Regions from separate parts of the Homo sapiens genome. Here region 1 is linked to region 2. Evidence: fine-mapped expression QTL. A gene starts in region 2. The other region holds a variant in brackets. All regions are shown on one strand. Distances are between the middles of the regions. Region 1 overlaps OPA1 (OPA1 mitochondrial dynamin like GTPase). Region 2 holds the start of OPA1 (OPA1 mitochondrial dynamin like GTPase).

Evidence for each region.
Region 1: its variant is fine-mapped to the expression of OPA1 in whole blood (TOPMed, PIP above 0.99).

The regions. Positions count from the first base shown.
Region 1 is chr3:193,691,178-193,702,391 of GRCh38, reverse strand. OPA1 (OPA1 mitochondrial dynamin like GTPase) reads right to left here. Exons shown (of 31, transcript NM_130837.3): 30 at 10,260-10,329; 31 at 4,581-7,786. The coding sequence ends at 10,265. Among named protein-coding and RNA genes, the nearest start is that of OPA1-AS1, 69 kb to the right of the region's middle. RefSeq lists an enhancer at 201-260. The variant T/A (reference allele first, on the strand shown) is at 4,919.
Region 2 is chr3:193,587,641-193,598,854 of GRCh38, reverse strand. It overlaps OPA1 (OPA1 mitochondrial dynamin like GTPase), which reads right to left and starts at 5,647. Exons shown (of 31, transcript NM_130837.3): 1 at 5,446-5,647. The coding sequence starts at 5,477. It also overlaps a transcript of ATP13A4 not described here. RefSeq lists enhancers at 5,089-5,168, 4,682-5,333, 5,769-5,818, 5,869-5,938, 5,334-5,985 and a silencer at 5,399-5,548.

The DNA of each region.
Region 1 (11,214 bases), 100 kb before region 2:
ATGTCCTCCTCTCCCCCTACAAGCCTGCAAACAAATGGTACAGGAATGAGGCCAGAAAGGAATCCCCCGCCTACCAGGCCCCTGAATTCATTTACCTACCTCAGAGCCCATTCAGAGAAAGGGGTGGGACAGGGAACAAGAGATGCTTGGAGGCCAAGTGGAGTTTGGGGGTCGAGCGCCACATTACAAGATTTGACAGGCCTTTGCGAGCCCTCAGCTTCTTTGTGTCTCTCACATAATAGAGAAACACAAAGTGAGCAGCACACGACCTGTGGTTACACCCTTGGACAGAGCACACTCTTTGCAAATGCTAATAGTATTGTAGCATCCTGTCACCCGGTAACACAAAAAAGGATGTTGATTTTCACATGAACCAGAACAGGCCCATTGTACACAAGTTTGTGACCAACTTGTAGTACCTGCACATCAAAAGGCCAGCCAATCATAGAGTACACAGCTGGCGAAACGTACCAACGGGGGGCGCCCAATGGGGAGAGCATCCAGGTCCAAATGCCTCACTCCACCAACAGGATAAGAAAACAATGCTTTTGACGCGAACAAAATTACACTCTCAGAATCTTGATTCAGCTATGACCAGAGCAATGAGTATAATTAGCAAGAATGTGAATGTCTCAGATGTTTTGAGAAATCTGAATGTATGAAAGTGGGAGTGGCTTTGTGATGGTACCAACAGCCTATGAAATGGCAGAGGCAGCAAATGGCAGGCATGTTCAATTAAGCATTCATATTAGAGATGTTCTGATACGGGTAAAGATAACTCATACAGATTTTGGCATGAAAATCTGTCTTTCGGTCCTAATAGTCTTGGGAAACCAGACATATCTCAAGGCAAGAAAATTAAAGAATGTACATGAGATACCTGGAATATAAGTTTAGTAGAAATTTTAAAGAATTCTGCTAATAGCTTTTCCTTCAAAATAATTTTATTGGGGGTGGGGCGCAGAAAGACACTCAAAAGTAGTAATTTGGGCCAGGCTAGGTGGCTCACGCTTATAATCCCAGCACTCCGGAAGGCTGAGGTAGGAGGCTTGCCTGAACTCAGAATTTTGAGATCAGTTTGGCAACATATTGAGATCTCATCTCTACTAAAAATTAAAAAAAAGATTAGCTAGGCATGGTGGTGTGTCCCTGTAGTCCCACCTACTCGAGAGGTTGAGGTGGGAGGATCACTTGAGCCCAGGAGGTCGAGGTTGCAGTGAGCTGTGATTGTGTCACTGCACTCCAGCATGAGGGACAGTGAGAAACCCTGTCTCAAAAAAAAAAAAAATAGTAATTTGGAAAAAGAAAATATTCAATCAAGTTTTTAAAAACTGAGGAAAGAGCAATTCCATATTTTAATACTTGGACTAACTAAAAAAGATTGACAGAATCTGCACAGGATAAAATGAGAGAATTAACATTATTAACATGTTGAGAATTGCAAAGCACTTGTTTTTTACACCTAAAACTTAAGGCCTGGCGTTAACATGAAATTAGAACCTACTGAATCTCATCTTCTTGTCCACTAAGGTCTCACAGGCAGCCACACATCTCTGCTGATAGTTCCATTCTTGCAATGCAACAATAGCCTCATGTAATTAGTAAAGACTATCATAGGCCATTTTTGTTATGAGTTAGGTCATTTTGTACTTTCTAGGTATATCATGTGCCCTAATGTGCTCCTAATATCATAAATGTTTACTTTCCGAAAAGTATTTCTGAAAGGGAGCATATTTTGGAAAGTGCATAGGCTTGTAATCATACTTGTTTTCAAGTTTCAACTTTGCTATTCAACTAGAATAACCTTGTGCAAAACCTGAGCTGATTTTCTCATCTATAAAATGGAAACAATACTTTCTGTGATAATGGGTGCAAAACACAAGGTATACTGGTTTCTTTGCTCTGGATTCAAGTTTTCTTCTTAGTTTCAAAATTTTAAAGGGAAACCAAAAATGTTTCATGGGACCAATCCTTGGCAAGATAGGATATTGACCGTTCAAAAAGAATTCAGTGGAGTTTCTCCATGGATCCCAAAATGCTGCTGGCCAGTTTTAGTCTACTTTGTAGTGTTCTGAGTCCTGCTCAGACCTTTATAATAGGCCCTTAGTTAGGATGTGTTAATATTTCTGGAATGGCTGCAAACTTACACATATCTCTCTGCATCCTTCCTCTCAACACACATCAGGCACCTCCTGCTACTGTGGTGTTGCTCCCGGCAGCGGGGAGGCAGGCATGTTATTGTCACTGGGTGTGTACTGTGTCCTTGAGGTGATTTCTGATTTTTTTACTATATATATATATGAATTGATTGTAGAAAAAAATTATATACATTAGGTATGCAAGGGGAGTGGCTGTGTACCACCTGGAGCATTATGGCACATGTGGGAATTCTTAAACCCTCTAGACAAATATATTTCTTAAAATGAGAAATAAGTAAGCATTGTATTTTCTTAGTGACGCAAACTAACACAGAAAGCTGTTTCTGCGTTAAGATGTATGGAAAGAGAGATTAATAACAAAAATAGAACACAAACTAAAGGAGCAGAAAAATGGTTAGGTTCATTCCTTCAGTTGAGAGGGAAATTAATTTCAGCATTTCCTGGCAGCTGAAGCAAAGAAAATGGTAAAGTCTTGAGTTCTCATTGTCACAAGGAGAGCAGTACATACATGTGTCTGGAGGGGAAACCGCTGGTACTATCTAGTAATCCTTAATGAATTTCAGTGATAATCAAGACATGTCATTAGGTTAGACTTCTGCAAAAGAGACTGTGTATTTTCTTCAAATAGATGTGTCATAAGGTCTTGCCTGTGAAGCCAAGGACGTAATATCAAAGAGGTAGGTAAGTAGCAGCCCAGGCAGTATTGCTTTCTGATGATTTGGCCTAATCTCAGATGAAGTTTACCAAAGCAAAAAAAGGAGGTTAACCTATTCCCTACATATTCTCTCACAAATATCAGAGGTCTCAAGAGCTTTTGGAAAGTATTAGGTCACATAAACCATGAGCATATTTTCTGACAAATGGATAAAATTCTAACTTCCGTATTGTTGCTCTGTGATTTAATAACTACAAGAGTAAGCAGCAGAATGAGTATTCTGTTCTGAACATTAAAGAGTGTAACTTATATTCTTAATACAGCCGTAAGACATATCTCTGTGGGGGGCTGCTGGCAGTATCACTGCACTGTGACTAGATCTTCAGGGGTGCCTCTGGCCTAGTTTTTTCAAAAACAGATCTCTGAATTTCCCAAATACTTGGAAAGGAACAGTTTACACCTGGGTTAATGAATTAAAAGTACTAACAGCAGGAACAAGAATTTTTTATCACAAAGAGTAACAATCACGCCTGTGATCCCAGCACTTTGGGAGGCCGAGGCGGGTGGATCACGAGGTCAGGAGATTGAGACCATCCTGGCTAACATGGGGAAACCCCATCTCTACTAAAAATACAAAAAATTAGCCAGGCATGGTGGCAGGTGCCTGTAGTCCCAGCTACTCGGGAGGCTGAGGCAGGAGAATGGCCTGAACCCGGGAGGTGGAGCTTGCAGTGAGCTGAGATCGCGCCACTGCACTCCAGCCTGGGCGACAGAGCAAGACTCCAACTCAAAAAAAAAAAAAAAAAAAAAAAAAGATTTTCATTTAACAGCATTTATAAGTAGTATTTACCTCCTTGTCAGTGACTTGGCCACAAATGCACCTTAACGCGGCTTCTGCAGAATATGTACGTAACTCACGAGAAGTCTTGGAGAGGAATCACATACATACTCTCAATTTTCAAGCTCAATTCTGTCATTTTAGGATATAAATTTAAACAAATGCCTTATGATATAGGTTTTTCCTACCCTTAGTTTTAGAAGCTGTCTTCTTCCAGCTAGAGATCACCCATATTTAAGCCTTCCTGATACTGTCTCCTGGTTTTGAACCTTTAACAATTTTTGTAGTATTTGTTTGAACACTTAAGTTTTCTACACTTATTAACTGGGTCTAATATGTGCAGGACATGATTGTTTTAGTTATCACAAATCGGGTATGTGGTTATTTTAAGACGTACTTCATAATTAAATACATCTGTATTATCTATAGGCACATGGTAGCTATTTCAATTTGATAAATATATTAATTCTTCAATCAGACATGCTAAAAAAATTAATTGCTCTATTAAATCTTCAGTAACTAAATTCTTCAAACGTTTTGATACACGAAGATTCTGAACTTGAATTACACAAGGATGAAAACCTAGTTTAAAATAAAGTATGGGGCCTCACACTGAGTCTGTTAGCACTGATAAAGAAAACCAATGCTAACACGATTGAAACATGTTCTTGCCTCTGCATCTTCTGAAGGAATTAAGAAGGCACACCTATACGCTACCTAACTTGACATATCCAATGATCGACAATTAGTAGGTATCATTTATGAGCAAAGTTCTGGAGGAATAACAAAGTGAGTAACAGGAGTTTATAATCAGATGGTAGATGAAATTAAAGTCTCTTCCAGTTCTAAAGCTTAGTTATAACTTCTTAGTAAGCCTCATATGAACATGTTGGCAGCATTAATGAAAATGACAGCCTTGGCAGCAAAGTGAAATTAGAAAACCTTTTTTATATATTTTACCAAGGAAAATAACAAAATGTTTTGACAAGTACCACGATGTGAAAAAAAGCACCGGTTGACCATGGAGTACAACTGTGAAATGCAAGGCATGTGAAATTCAAGCATTCAGAGAAAAGCCACACTGAGAGCTTGTTAGACCATGAATCTGGTTATACTATGGGGTCAAATAATGACCCTAGGTATACAGGTTTCTCTTTCCCTCGTTAAAACAGAAAAAAATTTAAAAGATGCTCTCCAATAATAGAATTATAATGTGATTTAAATATTTTTTAATTACTCATCTACACAAATGACCTTTGATCAAGC[T/A]CAGGCAAAATATAAGTTGCAATAATATCTACACGTAATGTGAAGGTTTTAAAAAAATAATACAAAGTTCATTCACAGTGCACAAGTGAAAACAAGGTAAGTTTCAAATATCTCAACAACATATAGCCATGATCATTCAAAAGGTAAGCATATTTTAAAGCACATTTCCATACTGCTAGAGCTATAACATAGACCAGCTTAGAGAACTGAGAGAAAAACCATTACTTTGATCCCCTTTATTGGAAAGCAAAAATACCAGATTTCTTTCCTCAGATACATACATCTAGAATAAATAAATACAAAATTATTAACTAAAGATTTTATCTTTTAAACCTATACTCTGACTCTCATCCTATGTCAAATTCCCACATTGTGAGGCTGGGAAGCACCACTCTCTGCCATGTTCCCTACTTATTTTTATATCATTCATTTGCATTTGGAGGCTGAATAATTTGCAGAAAGAAGTCTGCGGAAAAAACTGTAGAAAATGGGAATACAAAGAGGGCAATATCATAAACTACTAGAAAGGTTGACTGTTCCACCCGCAACTATAGCACAGTGGGTTAAACGGGGAAGCTGCAAGGGCCACTTATTTCGTGCTGTGCACTGCCTAGGTACACTGATTTTTAAAATTGAAGTCCTAGCCAAATTAAGTTTGGATATCATCTATTTACAGTTGTTCAGTCTTCCATACAGAGCTTTGTCCACTCCACTCTTTGCAAATTCTGACATAAAAACAAATGATTCTGTGGCTAGTTCGAATTTAACTTCTGTATATTTAGTATCTTTTTGTTTAAATTAGAATCATTTCTGACTTTTGAACTACAGACACAAGACACAGGGTTTACTCTTGAGACTGAATTTTATTTTCTTTCAATAACATCTGCAGTTGATAAATACCTAGCTTTCAAGGAAAAATAAAGCATGCTTAGGATGAGATCAGCTAAAAAGAAGAAAAAAAAACCCATGAAAGAAGCCACATTACTGTGGGGCATGGAGAGGGCGTCAGGACTCTCATGTGGGACTTTTAGTAATATTAATTGTTATCATCTATTCACATACGTTACAATACTGATCTCCTCAAAGAAATGAAGATCTCCCTCCATCTCTTTTTAAAACTTATACAAAGGGATGTGATAACAGTAGTGACTAATATTAGCCTTTTCCTTGGGAGAAATCTGTGGAAATACAGCTGAAGGTCTTTCTTTCTATAGTTGACAGAAGTAAATAAATATGGTCCTGTTTTATTCTTTAGAAATAGATGTGTAGTTGTAATTGTTATGCTTTACAACTGCAAAAATATTCATTAACATGCATTAACCTGTAAGCACTGGTTAGAGGGGTGTACCCAGTAAGGTCATCTCCTAATCTGTGTATAGAACATAATAGAGCTCTCCTCCCTTTCTATTCACTCCTGTCCCTAGACCTAAAAGAAATAAAAAAAGTTCCTGACTATGCATCTACCAGCGCATCTGTGCTGCTTAAGGCTGGACCTACTTTTCTTATCAAACAGTATAAAACAAACATACATTGAATTCCTGGTTTCGGAAGTATTTTTTCATATCCTCAACCGAGCATACCAAGTGTTACATCTTGAGGGATCACAACGAAGCATGCATTGATGTAAAACAATAAAATGGGGAGTAGCAATGGGGCTGTTACCAAAAAGCAACTCCAAGAAAATAAGATTTAGCAAACTGTAAAATCAAAAACATCACACAATGGACACTTTTATTAACAAAGTAAAGGCTTAGTGAAAAGGCAGCAAATGAGATAGACATTTTAAGTAAAGAAAGCATTTCTTTGCTTGAATGTCCTTTAGCCAATTAAAAAATATTTATTTAAAACACATGAAAATGTTGTGAAGGTAGTATTGTAATTAAATTGCAATAAATTGAACTAAATTTTTCTTTATTCAGCTGAGAGGGGGATGGTCAACATTACTTTAATTGTTGAAATAATTTCTATTTAAAATAGTCTTATGAAAGAAAGCCTTTTTCTGATACCTAGTTGAAATGTTTGATAATATTCTAAATGAAATTAGTCAATTGATTATCCTTAATCTTCCTCATCCTGTGTCATAATCCGGTGGCTCTGTCAACAGGAGAAAAACCACTATTAACAGAAAGCCTAACGTAAGTATACAACATCTAAAATAAATCAATTTCAAATGGATATAGAGAGTGAGAAAACAGCAACTGAATCAAATAGGTAAGCTGGTACTGACTTGGCTTCCAAGGCAAATTTCTTCGCTGGCTATGAAGGGTTGAAATTTCTTTCACTGAACGTTACAATCCAAATTAACCTGTTTTAAGGGTTCTTCTGTTACCCATTTTTCTTTCATGTGGTGAATATAAACTGAATTATCATGGTCAAATAGTTTCTGGGAATAGAATACTACAGACACATACAATGATTTAGCAGGCTACTGTGATTTTATATACAATTGATAACTTTAAACAATTGCTATATAAGTTTTATTTCAAAACACCTAGCATTGTATTTCTGGAAAAGAAACTGAACATTGAGCAACCTCAGTTAATCCATTAAACGAGTGCCACCACAAATAAGACAACAAACAGAGAACAAGTTTCTTATCTTCAAGGACTGAACCTAATGGCCATACCAATTATATTATTCCGATTTGTCACTTTAGTACAACAAAATAGGATGTTAATCCATTACCACTGTTCTTCCATTCGAGAGGCAGCTGATGGTTAAAGCGCCCGTAACATACATCGATTATTTTTATCCCATGACTTTATTGTATGTTTAGAAAGGTGGAACAGCAGAAGAAAAAGAGGCTGGACAAAAGACGTTGATGTTTTTGTTCTTCAGATGTATGCAGAGCTGATTATGAGTACGATTCTGTAAAAATAAACCCATTTAACAAACTGAGGTCAGGGGAGATAAATGCAAAATTTCTAAACAAAGTTGATGACTGCATGATCACAACAATGTTGAAGCCTAACCGCTTACCTTTGCTAGTTTTACTAAACTTATATAGTCTATCACCGACCTAACAATATTGGCATAATTTTTTTATCAAACATAAGTTAAAAGCATATACTAAAATTAATTGAAGAAGAATCTGTGTATGACTGTATAGCATATAAACACCTTCAGCAAATATTAGAATAACAATTAATTAGGAATCCTATGTGTTAAAACTATACTTGAGAAAGTATTCCTTAGGGTCCTTGGTAACTTTGATAAAATGGTCAGAATGAAGCAAGGTTACCATTCTGCCAGATTTATTCTTTTAAATGCATCTGCAGGGTACAAAACAGATCATCTGTCCAGATCACAAGATACTTTGTAAAAGTTCACAGAGTCTTAAGTCACAAGGGTTGAAAAGGGTCTTAGAGACTAGACAGGTAGCAGCAACAGCAACTCTGGATGTCACACTGATCAGCTGAGGGGAGAGACACCATTATGTAAAACACTGGCTGGCTTTCAGCTTCCTCATTTTGTTAAAAAAACAGAAATACAGCTTGTCTTTTTAACGGGGCTTCCGGGGCTTTCATCAATTTTTCCCCGCAAAGCACACACAGGTCAGTAAATAGAACTATGATGTAAGCTCTGGTGCTAAAGGGGAGATCAAGGAGGCGCTACAGATGTTTATTTCTAATAGTAAGTATTCACGGTAACCACCATGATTAGGGTGATATTGTAACACTTAATGGTTTTAAAATAAAATATTCATACACAAAAGACATAGAAAACATTTATGAACACGGACACTTATAAAACACAAAAATTATGTTTAGCTTGTGTTAAAGATGATTATGTATTTTTGTATATTTCCATATATCTGTCTTCACTTTTTTTTTGAGACAAGAGTCTCGCTCTGTCGCCCAGGCTGGAGTGCAGTGGCACGATTTCTGCTTACTGCAACCACTACCTTCCAGGTTCAAGTGATTCTCCTGACTCAGGCTCCCGAGTAGCTGGGATTACAGGCATGTGCCAGCACACCTGGGCAATTTTTGTATTTTTATTAGAGACGGGGTTTCACCATGTTGGTCAGGCTGGTCTCCAACTCCTGACCTCAAGTGATCCGCCCGCCTTGGTCTCCCTAAGTGCTGGGATTACAGGAGTGAGCCACCGCACTGGCCTGTCTTAACTTACTAAAGAAACAAATGAAATAAAGTTACAAAGCTTTATTTTCAAGTTTTCTAGGTCTTGTTTCTCTCCTCCTTTGCTGGCACACTGTTCCGAATGATGTACCATGGAAGTTGTACTTCCCTTTCCACCCTGCTTTCTCAAATACATTTTCCTGACAGGAAAGTAGGTAGTTTGGTTTAAGAGCCTTTTCTGAACTGACCTGAACCGAGCGTAGCCAGGGAGGGAACCTTTTACATTTCTACTCCTTCTAGTTCTGAGCCTGCTGCAGGCTGTCTGTAGGGTAAGGGTCACAGACAAAAGTGACAAAATATTTGAAGTGATAATGACTTAACTACAGTATTTTTCTTTCCTCAACTTCTTTTATAAAAGCAAATGCCAGCCTGGACAACGGGGTGAAACCCCATCTCTACAAAAAATTAAAGAAATTAGCTGGGCATGGTGGCATGAGCCTGTGGCCCCAGTTCCTTGAGAGGCTGATGTGGGAGGACTGCTTGAGCCCAGGAGGTTGAGGCTGCAGTGAACAGTGATTGCACTACTGCACTCCAGCCTGGGTGGCAGAGCGAGGTCTCCTCTCAAGCAAGTGACTTACTGATTAAAATTCTTCAGCAACAATTAATTGATTATGCTACTAAGGAAAAGTCCTTAAATATGTATTTTATTAGGAACATGCCTCTAATGCCAGAAAGCAGAATCAGACAAGAAAGTAAATTCAAGGAGTACTAAATTCTAAGGCTATATAAATTAAGTAGGAAAAACACTTATCTAAATGTTTTTAAACAAAAGAGATAAGGATTAAGAACAATTATTAAAATTTTAATTAAGTCAAACAGAAAACTTTCTAAGTTAAATATTTAACATACACATCATTATTGATAGACTATAGGCAAGAAGAATAAAGTAATGTCAACTACAGCTCAATTCTTTACACCTAGAAAATGAGTCACCTGCATATTATACAATATCTTAGCTCTGTGTTCACCTTTGTTCTATTCAAAATGAGTTCTAGAGGATATTCTTAATTCAGCCAGAAGGCAATCAAGTTATTCAAAGCAACGTTATACAAATGAAATTCGGAAGCTAGTTTCAGAGATTCATGCCATTGAAATTACAGCATAAGTGACAAGCAGGATGTAAATGAAGCAGAATGATAAACTATTAAGAAAAGTGTAATTTTGTATTTAGTCAGCACCAATACAGTTAGAGAATTTTTACTCACTTAATTTATTTCTCCTGATGAAGAGCTTCAATGAAAGCATCAAGTTTTTCTTGAATTTCTCTAACTTTCTCTGTGGAGATAAAAATAAAGAAAAACATTTATTTTTCAAAGGTATCACAAATCAGGAGGTAATTATTTACTAAATGGTTGGTATACTTAACTATTTGCGGGAAAAAGAAAAATATGAGTCTCACCATACCACCTTTTACCCAAATAAAGTCCAGATGGATTATAGTAGTAGGTCTCAGACATTTTTTGGAAGTGGGAGGAGAGACTGACTGACCCCTTTGAGGATCTAACAAAAACTCTGGACTCTTAACATGGAAAAAAGCATGTATTAAGTACATGTACAATTATGTAGAGAATTTTAAGGAATTCTCAGATTCTCTGAAGCCCAATTAAGAACCCACAGTTACTAATGTCTGGATCATAGGCAAATATAAAACAATGAAACCATTTTAAAAAACTAAAAGAAAATAGAGGTGGCCTTAGACTGGGAAATGACTTTTTAAATATAAAGTAGTAAGAGTTACAAAGGAAAAGATCAATCAATATGGCCATATTGAAATGTATACTTTTATTTATATGTCATAAAATTAAAAGACAAAGGAAGCTGTGGGAGATGCTTGCAACAAACATGAGAAGTGCAATGGTGCTATAAAAATACATACAAAAAAGTACTTTGCCAGCTATAAATAAGTTTAAAAATACCAGAGCCACTAGAGGTAGATTTACATTATTTATTTTAGGTTTTCATGTTTATAGACTTCCAAATGAAATATATACTCTCTGAAATGTAGATTTCCTCCACAAATGTGAACTGCTCATAGTACATGCCAATCCCCTCTTAAAATTGGAAAAGTCATGATCTATACTACTTCACATGCACCTCCTACTTTATTTTATATTCTGAGATGGGGGTCCTACTCTGTCGCCCAGGTTGGCGTGCAGTGGT
Region 2 (11,214 bases):
CTCTGGTTCCAATCACATTTCCACTGCTTACTAGCTGTGCAGTTAGGGCAAATTATGAATTTTCTAAAGCCTTAGTTTCTTAATCGGTTAAAATGGCATAATAGCTGTATTAGAGAGTCGCCATCAATAATCAATAATCTGATATTTCTTTCTTCTCCTTACCTATTCACATCCTCCTTATCTATTCACCCACTTACCACCTTAGATTATGCGGTTCATCGTTTCAATAACTCTTTTGCAAACATTCTAAACTCCCTCGTCCTCTGACTTTTCTGTTTGACTTGTCCAACAAAATACAAACCCTACATGAGCCTTATTGTTTTTCTCTCTGCCTGTACCCAGGGAAATAAAGCACTACTGGAGAAAATCACACCCAACTGGAAGCACATCTCAACAGGGCCCTCAAAACTACTTAACAATCCTACTTCATCTCTCTTAGCAATTCATTCTTCCACTCTCTGCTAGAAGAGCTCTTCTAATCTCCCCTTATCTCTCTTGACCTCCCCAACTCTCAGTAGATGACCTTGCCCTCTACTTCACAGAGAATGGAAGCTATTAGAATGACACATGTTCAACTTCCTCATACAAAAACTGTTCACCTACTGTATCTCCACCAATCCTCTTCTTCCTCATGTAAAATTAAGCGATCTTTCTCCCATTAAAGGTGAATCACTGTTTGGAATTCTCTTTCCTCCTGCCCTTTGAGGAATCTAAGTCAAATCTCTCCTCCCATATTTATTTTTTATTTTTGAGACAGGGTATTTATTTATTTTTGAGACGAAGTCTTGCTCTGTTGCCCAACGTGGAGTGCAATGGCATTATCAGGGCTCACTGCAGCCCCACGTATCTGGGCTCAAGTGTGATCCTCCTGCCTCAGCTTCATAAATAGCTGGGACTAGAGGTGTGTGCCAGCATGCCCAGTTAATTTTTTTTGAATTTTAGTAGAGACAAGGTCTTGCTATGTTGCCTAGGCTGGTCTCAAACTCCTGAGCTCAAGCGACCCTCCCTTTCAAAGTGTTGGGATTACAGGTGTAAGCCACTGCACCTGGCTATGTCTCATCTTAAAAGGGGGAAAAAAAGTACCCCATTTCCCTGCTCTAGCTATTTTATTAAAATAAAAGCCAAACCATCCTGATTTCCATTTCTTTTTTTTTTTTTTTTTTTGAAACGGAGTCTTGCTCTGTCACCCAGGTTGGAGTGCAGTGGCTCGATCTCTGCTCACTGCAACCTCCGCCTCTGGGGCTCAAGCGATTCTCCTGCCTCAGCCTCCTGAGTAGCTGGGATTACAGGGACCTGCCACCACACCTGGCTACTTTTTGTATTTTTAGTAGAGACAGGGTTTCACCATGTTGGCCAGGCTGGTCTCGAACTCCTAACCTCAGGTGATCCGCCCACCTCGGCCTCCCAAAGTGCTGGGATTACAGGAGTGAGCCACTGTGCCCAGCCTGATTTCCGTTTCTATCACTTCAGCGAAACAGCTCTTACGGAGGGCACCATAGGCTTCCAATGGCCATTTTGCTCAATTCTGGTTTTATCTGACCTCTCAGCAATACCTGACAATGTTGACACCTCCTCATTGTTGAAAATTCCTCTCCCCTGGGCAGTCTCTAGCTTTACCTCTATCTCACTGGCCACTCATTTTCAGTATCCTCAACTACCCTTGGAAATGTTGGGAACTCATCAAGGCTTAGACCTAACCTACTTCTCACTCTCCCTAGGCAATCTCATCTACACCCATTTCCTCCATTACCATCCACATACCCATGTTTCTCAAAATTATGTCTAATACAGTTAAGTTCCCCCTTTTGGTCAGCCCCTCAATTTAGAGAGATTAACCAAAACTTTAGGCGTTGACACCACTCTCTGTCACCATCATAAAGACTTATTTGATCTCAGTGTGGAACTCACAAGTCGTCTTTAGTTTCAGTACGGAGTCTCACACGTCTTCTTTGGTGTTAATAGGGAATTCACAAGCCGCAGCCTGTACCAGTTAAATGATTCTTTATGTTCTTGCTGATCCACTTGGAGCGAGACCATTCAACTGTCAACGTACAGCTGCATACAAAACATTTAAGACTTGAGAGTATACAGAGCGCCAAGGGGACTATTATTGCGACTATTAAGAGGATACCATCAAAATGCTAAGGCGTACTCCTTGTTGTTATTCAAAAACAGCAATCAAAGAACAATAGAAAGTGTACAGAATTAAACATGTCTTTAAGAGTTTTCTTAAAAGTTCATGGAAATGAAAAGTTGCAATGCTCAGTGCTAGGTGTCCTCTAAAAGGAAAAATAAAAATAAAAAAATTAAGTTGCCGCCAAATGCAGTGGCGCACGCCTGTAATCCTGGCATTTTGGGAGGCCAAGGTGAGAGGATTACCTGAGCCCAGGAGTTCGAGGCCAGCCTGGACAACACGCCAAGATCCTGTGTGAAAGAAAAGAAAAGAAAAGAAAAGAAAAGAACAGAAAAGAAAAGAAAAGAAAAGAAAATTAAGAAAAGAAAAGAAAAGAAAAGAAAAGGAAAGGAAAGGAAAGGAAAGGAAAGGAAAAGAAAAGAAAAGTTGCGATGGCCAATATTAAAAAAATCAACAGTAAAACCATGAAATGAATTAAGGAAATTCCCCAGGACATAAAATGCAAAAAAAAAAAAAAAAAAAAGGTGAAAAACATAAGAGGAAAGTTAAGTGATGCAGAGCTGTGGTAATGTGGTATCCAAAGGGAGTGGGAGGATGGGGGCGGAATGCATCCCGTGGGATGAACAAAAGGATCTACTGGGATTCAGGAAGAAAGTACTGAAGCTTCTAGATGCAGTATGTTTTGTATCTTATCCTTTAAGATTATGTTAGGGTTGACTTACAATGTAAATAATTAGTACAGATACATATATAATTTAAAAATAAAAAAGTGTGCATATATACATAGGGTATATGTATGCTTTTCCTTTTAACAGACGACGAGTACAAATCTTACTTTGGAAATCACGGACATAACATATCAATCTAAGAGGACCACTATCCTCCTAAGAGATGTCTAGAAAGAAAAAGGACAGGAAAAATGAAAGGAAGATAATAAAAAATAAGAGAGAAAAACGTCTCAGAAATGAAGAAAGATAAAGGGAAAGGCCCACTGAGTGTGCCAAGTCAAATGAGTAGCAAAAGAAAACAAAACCAAACCCACACCTGGTCCAAGCCTTGAGAAATTTAGGATAAAGGATAAAGTCAAGACCCTAACAGATTCCATGAAGGGAAAAACAAGATAATCATGAAGATGAAAAAATCAGATTGTCATAAGAATTCTCAGCAGCAATAAACAATTACATTAGAAGAAAATGCAGCAATGCCTTTACAGTTCTAAAGGAAAAGAATTTTGAATATAGACTTCAATATTCAGTCAAAACTAAAAATCAAGTATGATGCAAAATAGGTTTCCCCCAGAAATCTACTCTCTTGTTCATTGACTATCACTTTTAATCAATATATCATTTCCTAATATGTAATTCTTTTAAAAATAATTTTACACAATTATTTATTGCACCCAAATGTTAGTATTGATCTTTTCACATGTCCATGAGCATGTATTTACATATGTATGCCCAAAGAAATGCTTATGCTCTCATCTGTTAGGGAGCAGGAATTTAACTGTATTCTTTCACAACATGCAAAGGAACTATAGCAAAAGAAAAACTGCAGAGCTTGGGGCTTCTGGCTTCCCACATCTCTACTTCTTTAGGTAGCTAAACTGTGCCATCACCAGGAGACATTTTTAAGCCATGACTCAATGGCATCCATGGTAACTTTAGAAATAATTTAGCCCAATGACAGCCAATTAAATAAATACCACTTATAAATCAGTTTGTTTTAAAACTCCGTCTTTGTAGTTCTTCTTATACATCTTAATTGCTCCAACAGAGAATGCTATCTTCTGCAGTCTTTTCTCTTTTTATTTAAAGAAAATCAGATATGTTTCCTCACTAAATATTGAGAAGTAGAAATGCAAGGGTTGTAAATAACTTACTTTAATACCAAGGGCTGTGAACTTACTCAAAGACTAAAATTCCATGAGATTAAAAATACCTATGCAATAATTCTAACTGACTAACACTGTTAACTATTGTTATCTCATCTAGTTCTGTATTTTGGACTCCAGTTAACCTATATAAAACAAATTGGGCCGGGCGCGGTGGCTCACGGTTGTAATCCCAGCACTTTGGGAAGTCGAGGAGGGTGGATCACATGAGGTCAGGAGTTCGAGACCAGCCTGGCCAAAATGGTGAAACCCCCTCTCTACTAAAAATACAAAAATTAGCTAGGCGTGCTGGCGCGTGCCTGTAATTCCAGCTACTCCGGAGGCGGAGACAGGAGAATTGCTTGAACCTGGGAGGCGGAGGTTGCAGTGAGCCGAGATAGCGCTACTGCACTCCAGCCTGGACGACAGAGCAAGACTCCGTCTCAAAACAAAACAAAAACAAACTAACGAATGCATTCCATTCCTTATAAACACGATAAATTATCTATACCACTTAAAAAGGTCTGGAAAAAATTCAAAACAACTGCTTAGAAGTTAATTCAGGAAAACCACGTTTTTCCAATTTTGCTTGATGCATCTTACTTCCTATCAAATGCCTGCAACAATGAGCTAAGCTTGAAGGTATCTAATGATACTAGAACAAAATTTCCTATAAAATCCAATTTAATCTCATTACAATGCATATAGTAACGCACAGAAATGAAAAGATTTCTATGATTTTCTATTTAGAATTAAACCACCCCAGGGCAACAATGATTGAGATTAGAAAGGTGGTGCCACGTTCACGACCTTGCATCAAAAAGTAAGTCTCCCTCCCGAAACACAGAAAAAAGCTGCTATTGAAAGGGCATCTCGAATCACCGTCTCTGACACCGTGTGCGTCATTGCTCTAGTTCTGACTTCTATCAGCGGGCTAGGGAAAGAGACGGACGCCCCTTTCCCCGATAGAAGAGCCCAGGTACCTGAAGATGCAATGTACACATGGCGTGGAAATGGAAGAAAAAGAAGACACCGAGAGTTAGGAGAAATGTGGAGAGAGGTGACTCATGGACAGAGCCAAACCTGGCAGGGAGAGGACAGAAAAAAGGCAAAAGAGGCAACCAGAGACAGACAGAACACTGAAGACACAAGGGTGTAAAGGGCAGAGACAAAAGGACAATAGAGACGGGCCAAGATTGAGAGGCGTCCAGAATTTTCGGGTTGGGTAGGGCCAGAGAAAAGGGCCAGTATTGAAGCCGGCTCCGAACGTAAGCCCAGCCAGGGCTCCTGTCATTCTGGGTCCTCAAGAACATCTGGGAATTCTCCAACTGCCGTCGGCCTGGCCTGAGAGTCACCTGCACATTTTTGGAGATAGAGATAAGACAGCCCCACTCTCAAGAGGCCCCAGAATTAACGGGGCCAGATTAGAGCCTGCACTTACCAGGCCACAGCGGCCCGACGTAGTCGCCACATCCCGCCGGCGGGGAGGTCACGCAGGCGCCGAGACGGCCACGCGGGAGCCCCCGTGTGAGCCCCAGCCCGGCTCCCGGTCCAGGAATGACCCAGGAAGTGGCCCTCAGCAGCAAGGGCACAGAGCCGCGGCCGAGGCCCTCCCAATGGCGCATGGACTTCCGCAAGAGCCTGACAGGCACCCGTACTCAGTCCGTCACGGAAACAACCACTTCACCCTTTCTAGGCGGGCAGCACGAACGGTCCGCGGAGGACCAGCGCATGCGCACAGTGCGTCGGGAACGGACTGGAGCAATCCATCGCCTCTCACGGGGCCCCGCCCTCTTGCTTCCGATTTGGAATTCGGAATTAGCCTTGCAGGTTAGAGATTTGGCCAGGGGAGGGAGCGAGAGTTGGGCGGGAACGGGAAGGGCTAAAGGCGTGGAATGAGAATTGATGAATGCTCACCGGGAGCCATGAATTTATTAAGAGTTGGATATTGAGGGAGCACGAAGGAAACTAGAGAGTGCAAGGTGAAATACAGTAATAGCGTACTACAAACTAATGCTTGCACATTTGCCTACCTTCTTTCTTGGGCATCTTTGTTTGAAAGCACTTTCACATCGTTAGGGCAATCATGGGAGGTGAGAAGCAGGACGAAGAGTCATGGATAGGCTAAGTCCCTTAGAATCTCTGAGGATCAGATGGGAAAGGGACTTAAATCAGTTAGGCCAGTAACGGGTTTGGAATAAGCTTGTGTGGTTTATAAAAGGCGTCAAAATGATTTGTTCAACTGTTTCTTCCGGATTTTAAGCCCACCAGTTTGTTGAAATGGTCCTCGTCAAGGCCTCCACCAGCTCCCTATTGTTTGTGGCCAGTGAGCCTGCCACAGCATTCAGTTCAGATGCCTAGTGCTGAGCACTCCTTCAACTACTTTTTCTTTTGGCTCTCTGGCCATCACATTCTCCTTTTTCCCTGGAACTGCTGCTCCCAGGCTTCTTTGATGGCTCCCCTCCCAAATTTCTCAATGTTGGACAGGCCCAGATCTCAGCCATCTTGAGCTCCTCTCCTCCATCACTTTAAATACTCCTTTCCCCTTCCAACACAAACCTTTTATGTTTTGTAAGGAAACCAGGGCCCGTAAAAGGGATGTGGCCTGTGAACGGTTATGAAGCCAATTTTTAGGGACTAAAATAAAAGGGTCCTGTGCATCCTCTTTACTTCAGGGACCTTTCACCTCCTCCCCACTACCCGCCCCCCACCCATGCCACACACATACACAAATACACAGAGCATAAAGACAATTCCTTTTCCCTTAATTGTCAGAATCATAAGTCTGGACCCATGCACTCACAATACCACCAAGAGTAGACCTAGCCATTGATAGTAAACTTCCCAAATGCAGGACTCTTAGAATTTTCTTTATTTATTGTGGTGACTGTTTCAATGGCAGGTCCAGAGAGCAATTTGCTGTACCAACCTGTGCAAACTGTAGATCTTCCTGGGATTGTAGGGTTGTACAAAAAGTGTCTTTGTAATCGTTACTTCCTTGTTATTTTAGAAAATAAAATAAGAGAAACCAAGAGACTTTAACAACAACAACAAAAAAGAAAAATTAGGGATAAAAGACTTTAACCATAAAAAAAGGAGAAACTAACCACCATCACCATTTATATATGGTTATCATATGTTTTATGAAGCCCTTGTTTTGCAGTTCTACTTCTAGGCATTTATCCTGTGGAATCATTCCCATGTATGCAAAGATGTATGCATGATGATGTTTATTTCTGCACTGTATGAAATGGGAAAAGATTGGAATCAGTATAAATGTCCATGTATAGGAACTAGACACATAAATTACATCCGTACTAGCCATGAAAACCTATGCTTTAGGTCTGTATGTCCTGATAAGGAATGATCTCCCATAGATACATAGTGTTGCCATGAAAAAAGGGCAAACTGTTGTATAATAAACTGCAACCATTGGACCAAATTCAGCCCACAGACCTGTTTTGTTTGGTTTAGACAGTGTTGGCCTATGCAGTGTTTTAAAAATAACACTACATTTGGGCTGGGCATGGCGGCTTATGCCTGTAATCCCAGCACTTTGGGAGGCCGAGGAAGGCAGATCACGAGGTCAGGAGTTTGAGACCAGCCTGGCCAATATGGTGAAACCCTGTCTCTACTAAAAATAAAAAAATTAGCCAGCTACTCGGAGGCTGAGGCAGAAAAATTGCTTGAACCCAGGAGGCAGAGGTTGCAGTGAGCTGAGATTGTGCCACTGCACTCCAGCCTGAGCGACAGATCGAGACTCCGTCTCAAAAACAAACAAGCAAAAAAATGCTACATTTGTTGCCAAATAAAAATCAACAAATTTCACATTTTAAAAAATCACATAAAAATATCAGGATGCCTAACAACATCAACCTTCAATTCTTATATACAAAAAATGTCTCGGAACCAGGAGCCAAGTAGTAGTTTTATCCTTCAGGCACTCATGTCCTCTCCGGTAGTTCACACTCCTTCATCTTTCTGAAATTGAACACATCAATTACTGTTTATCATGAAGCTTGTGCTTCTACTTTTCTTAGTAAAAATTAAGAGGAAAAACAACCACTACTTATATTGAAACTGCCTTGGCAAAATTATGACAAGAGGAACCTGACATAGTTGACTCCATCTTGCTTCTGACCTCCAAGCTGTCCTTGCTCATTCCTGGACTTAAGCCAAATGAACTTTGGGGAGGAATGTAGTTTATAGTTTAACTTGAAAGAAAGGATTATAATAGTCCCTTCCTAAAGCTAACTCCCTCGTTGCTCAGGAACCAAAAACCACCTTTGTAAGAAAGGCCAAGAGAACAGGATCATGAGAGGGGCCTGAACTGTGCTAAGACGTAGGTATGGTTTCTATAGTCCCTTACTGCTCAGGAATCAATGTGGCCAGAACTCACAAATCTTATGACTTCCCCAATTGCTCCTATAGATAACATCATTACTATAGAATCTAAGACTGCTTTTTTGCGGTATATTTCAGACTCACCCCATCGAGACTTATGACTCATGACTCAAGTGATCCTGTGGCCCCGCCCAGAGGTGGACTCAGCACACAAGGAATGTTTTCCTATTATTTCATCCCCAACCAATCAGCAGCATCCATTCCCTACCCCTTGCCCACTAAATTGTCCATAAAAACCTCTAACCTCAGAGCCTTCAGGAAGATTGATTTGAGTGACAACTCCAGTTCTCCTGCATAGGCTGGTCTTGAATCAGTTAAACTCTTTTTCTACTGCGATGCCCTGGTCTCAGTGAAATGATTTTGTCTGTGCAGTGAGCAGGAAGAACCTGCTGGATGATTACAATATGAAAAGTGAGAGAAAATGAAGGACTGAGAGGGTCAGCCATTTCCAAAACAATGAGAAAGAGCTTTTTTTTTTTTTTTTTTTGGCAAAAGAACACAAGTATGCAAGTAGGCAAGTAAAATTATATGAATAAATTATATGAATACAATTTAATATGACATTATACAACAGACATACTTGCATTACTCATTTATGTTACATGCCTAACCCACGAAAATATTTGAGTTGATAAGCCCTAGTGAAGGGCAGAGTCAAGGAAGGACTTGAAGTTAGTGGGTCATGAGTGGGAGGGAGGCTTACATTTATTGTAAACCCTTTTATACTCTGAACTTGTGTATTAATTACTTGTAAAAACATGTTAAAAATATTTTTCTGATCCAGAAGTCATGAAATAATTTTACTACTTTAAACTAAATTTTCCAGTTCAGCTGGGAATTGAGCAATTCACCAGGTAAAACTCTAAATATTTACCTTAGCAGGAAAAGGGACCCTTTTCAGAATTATCCAACGAATCAGAAATTTTCAGAAAGGAAGGTAATGAGAGATGTTAATGGAAATGGAAATGTTTAAAATTGATTTCATAAGTTTTATATTTAAATTTATACATAAAAGCTTTTGCAAAGTTCTTCTTGGGAGATCTCCAAGTTCCTTAACACTACTCTTTGTGGTTTCCTGGAGAAGCCAATAATTAGCTGAAGTCATACATGTTTGCACCATCATCATTATCAAACTCTCCCCAGCCCTCAGAAAAGCATGTTATAATCCTTATTAACAAACATTTACAGTCACTTCCTATGAACCCTAGTCGAGGATATAAATACATATATATACACACACAAATTATATACACACACACACACACATATATATATATTTGGTTTTTGTTTGTTTGTTTGTTTGTTTTGAGACAGAGTCTCACTTTGTCGCCCAGGCTGGAGCGCAGTGGCACAATCTCGGCTCACTGTAACCTCCACCTCCCAGGTTTAAGTGATTCTCCTGCCTCAGTCTCCTGAGTAGCTGGGATTACAGGTGCATGCCACCATGCCTGGCTAAGTTTTTGTATTTTAGTAGAGACGGGGTTTCACCATTTTGGCCAGGCTGGTTTCAAACTCCTGACCTCAAGTAATCTGCCTGCCTCAACCTTCCAAAGTGCTAGGATTACAGGCATCAGCCACCGTGCCAGGCCTGAGGATATATTTTTTTAAAAAGAGTAAACCACAGTTCCCACCCTCAACTAACCATGGTTTGGTTAGGAAGACAGACATACATAAAAGGTAAACATTAATGTGAGGTAGTACAAGCTGAGGACCAAGTAATGGGTAGCAACAGTTACTACCCACAGAGGCAGACTATAGTGTCATAAAGTGGGCTCAAAAAAGATAATCCTGGAGAAACAGAAAAGGATGAATTTGTAAAGAGGGAAACTGAGGGTCAGGAAGACTGGATAGGGGGCTGTTGAGAAAGTCAAGTGTGAGGGCCCTTAACCAAAGCCTGGTAATGGGAAGAAGTGAGAGATTCTTTGAAAGGATACTTCGGAGTATTTAAAACAATGAAAAGCTAAATGAAGAAACTAGGAAGAGGAATCAAAAGATAATGGGGTTGAAGCCAAAGTCAATTGACATTATTAGTAACAGTCACAAATATAGAAAAGCTGATTACAAGGGGATGATAATGCTGGCTTTGGAATGATGATTGGTGCTGAAGTGTGAATGGGTTATTCAGGTGGCAGTTAGAAATCAAGCTTTGGAGTTCCACAGGGAGATGGGGCTTGCAATACAGATTCGAGAGTTGTCTTTATAAAGGTGAAGCTTTGGGTCACATTAACCTTTGTGAAACTGTGCAAGAACTTGAAATTGTTTGTTAATGATTAAATCCACATTATTTTATAATGTTTGTTTATTTATTTATTTTGAGACAGCGTCTTGCTCTGTTTCCCAGGCTAGAGTGCAGTGGTGTGATCATGGCTCACTGCAGCCTCGAACTCCTGGGCTCAAGTGGTCTGCCCTTTTCAGCCTCTTAAGTAGATGGGACGGCAGACATATATCACCATGCCTGGCTAATTTTTAAATATATATATATATTTTCAGACACTGGGTCTCCTATGTTGCCCAGACTTGTCTTGAACTCCTGGGCTCCAGAGATCCTCTTGCCTCAGCCTCCCAAAGTGCTGGGATTATGGGTTTAAGCCATATTTTTGGGATTATGGCATAACCCATAGTTTTTACAATTTTTATACTTTTTGTATATTATGGTTTATATTTTTAAGACTAAATATATTACATTCAGTGCAATAATGCAAGAACAAGAAATGTAAGGCATAACATTTTCAGCTGATGTGACTGATTACATAGAAAATCCTAAGAAATTAATAAAAAGCAAACACCAGAAATAGTGAATTAAGGA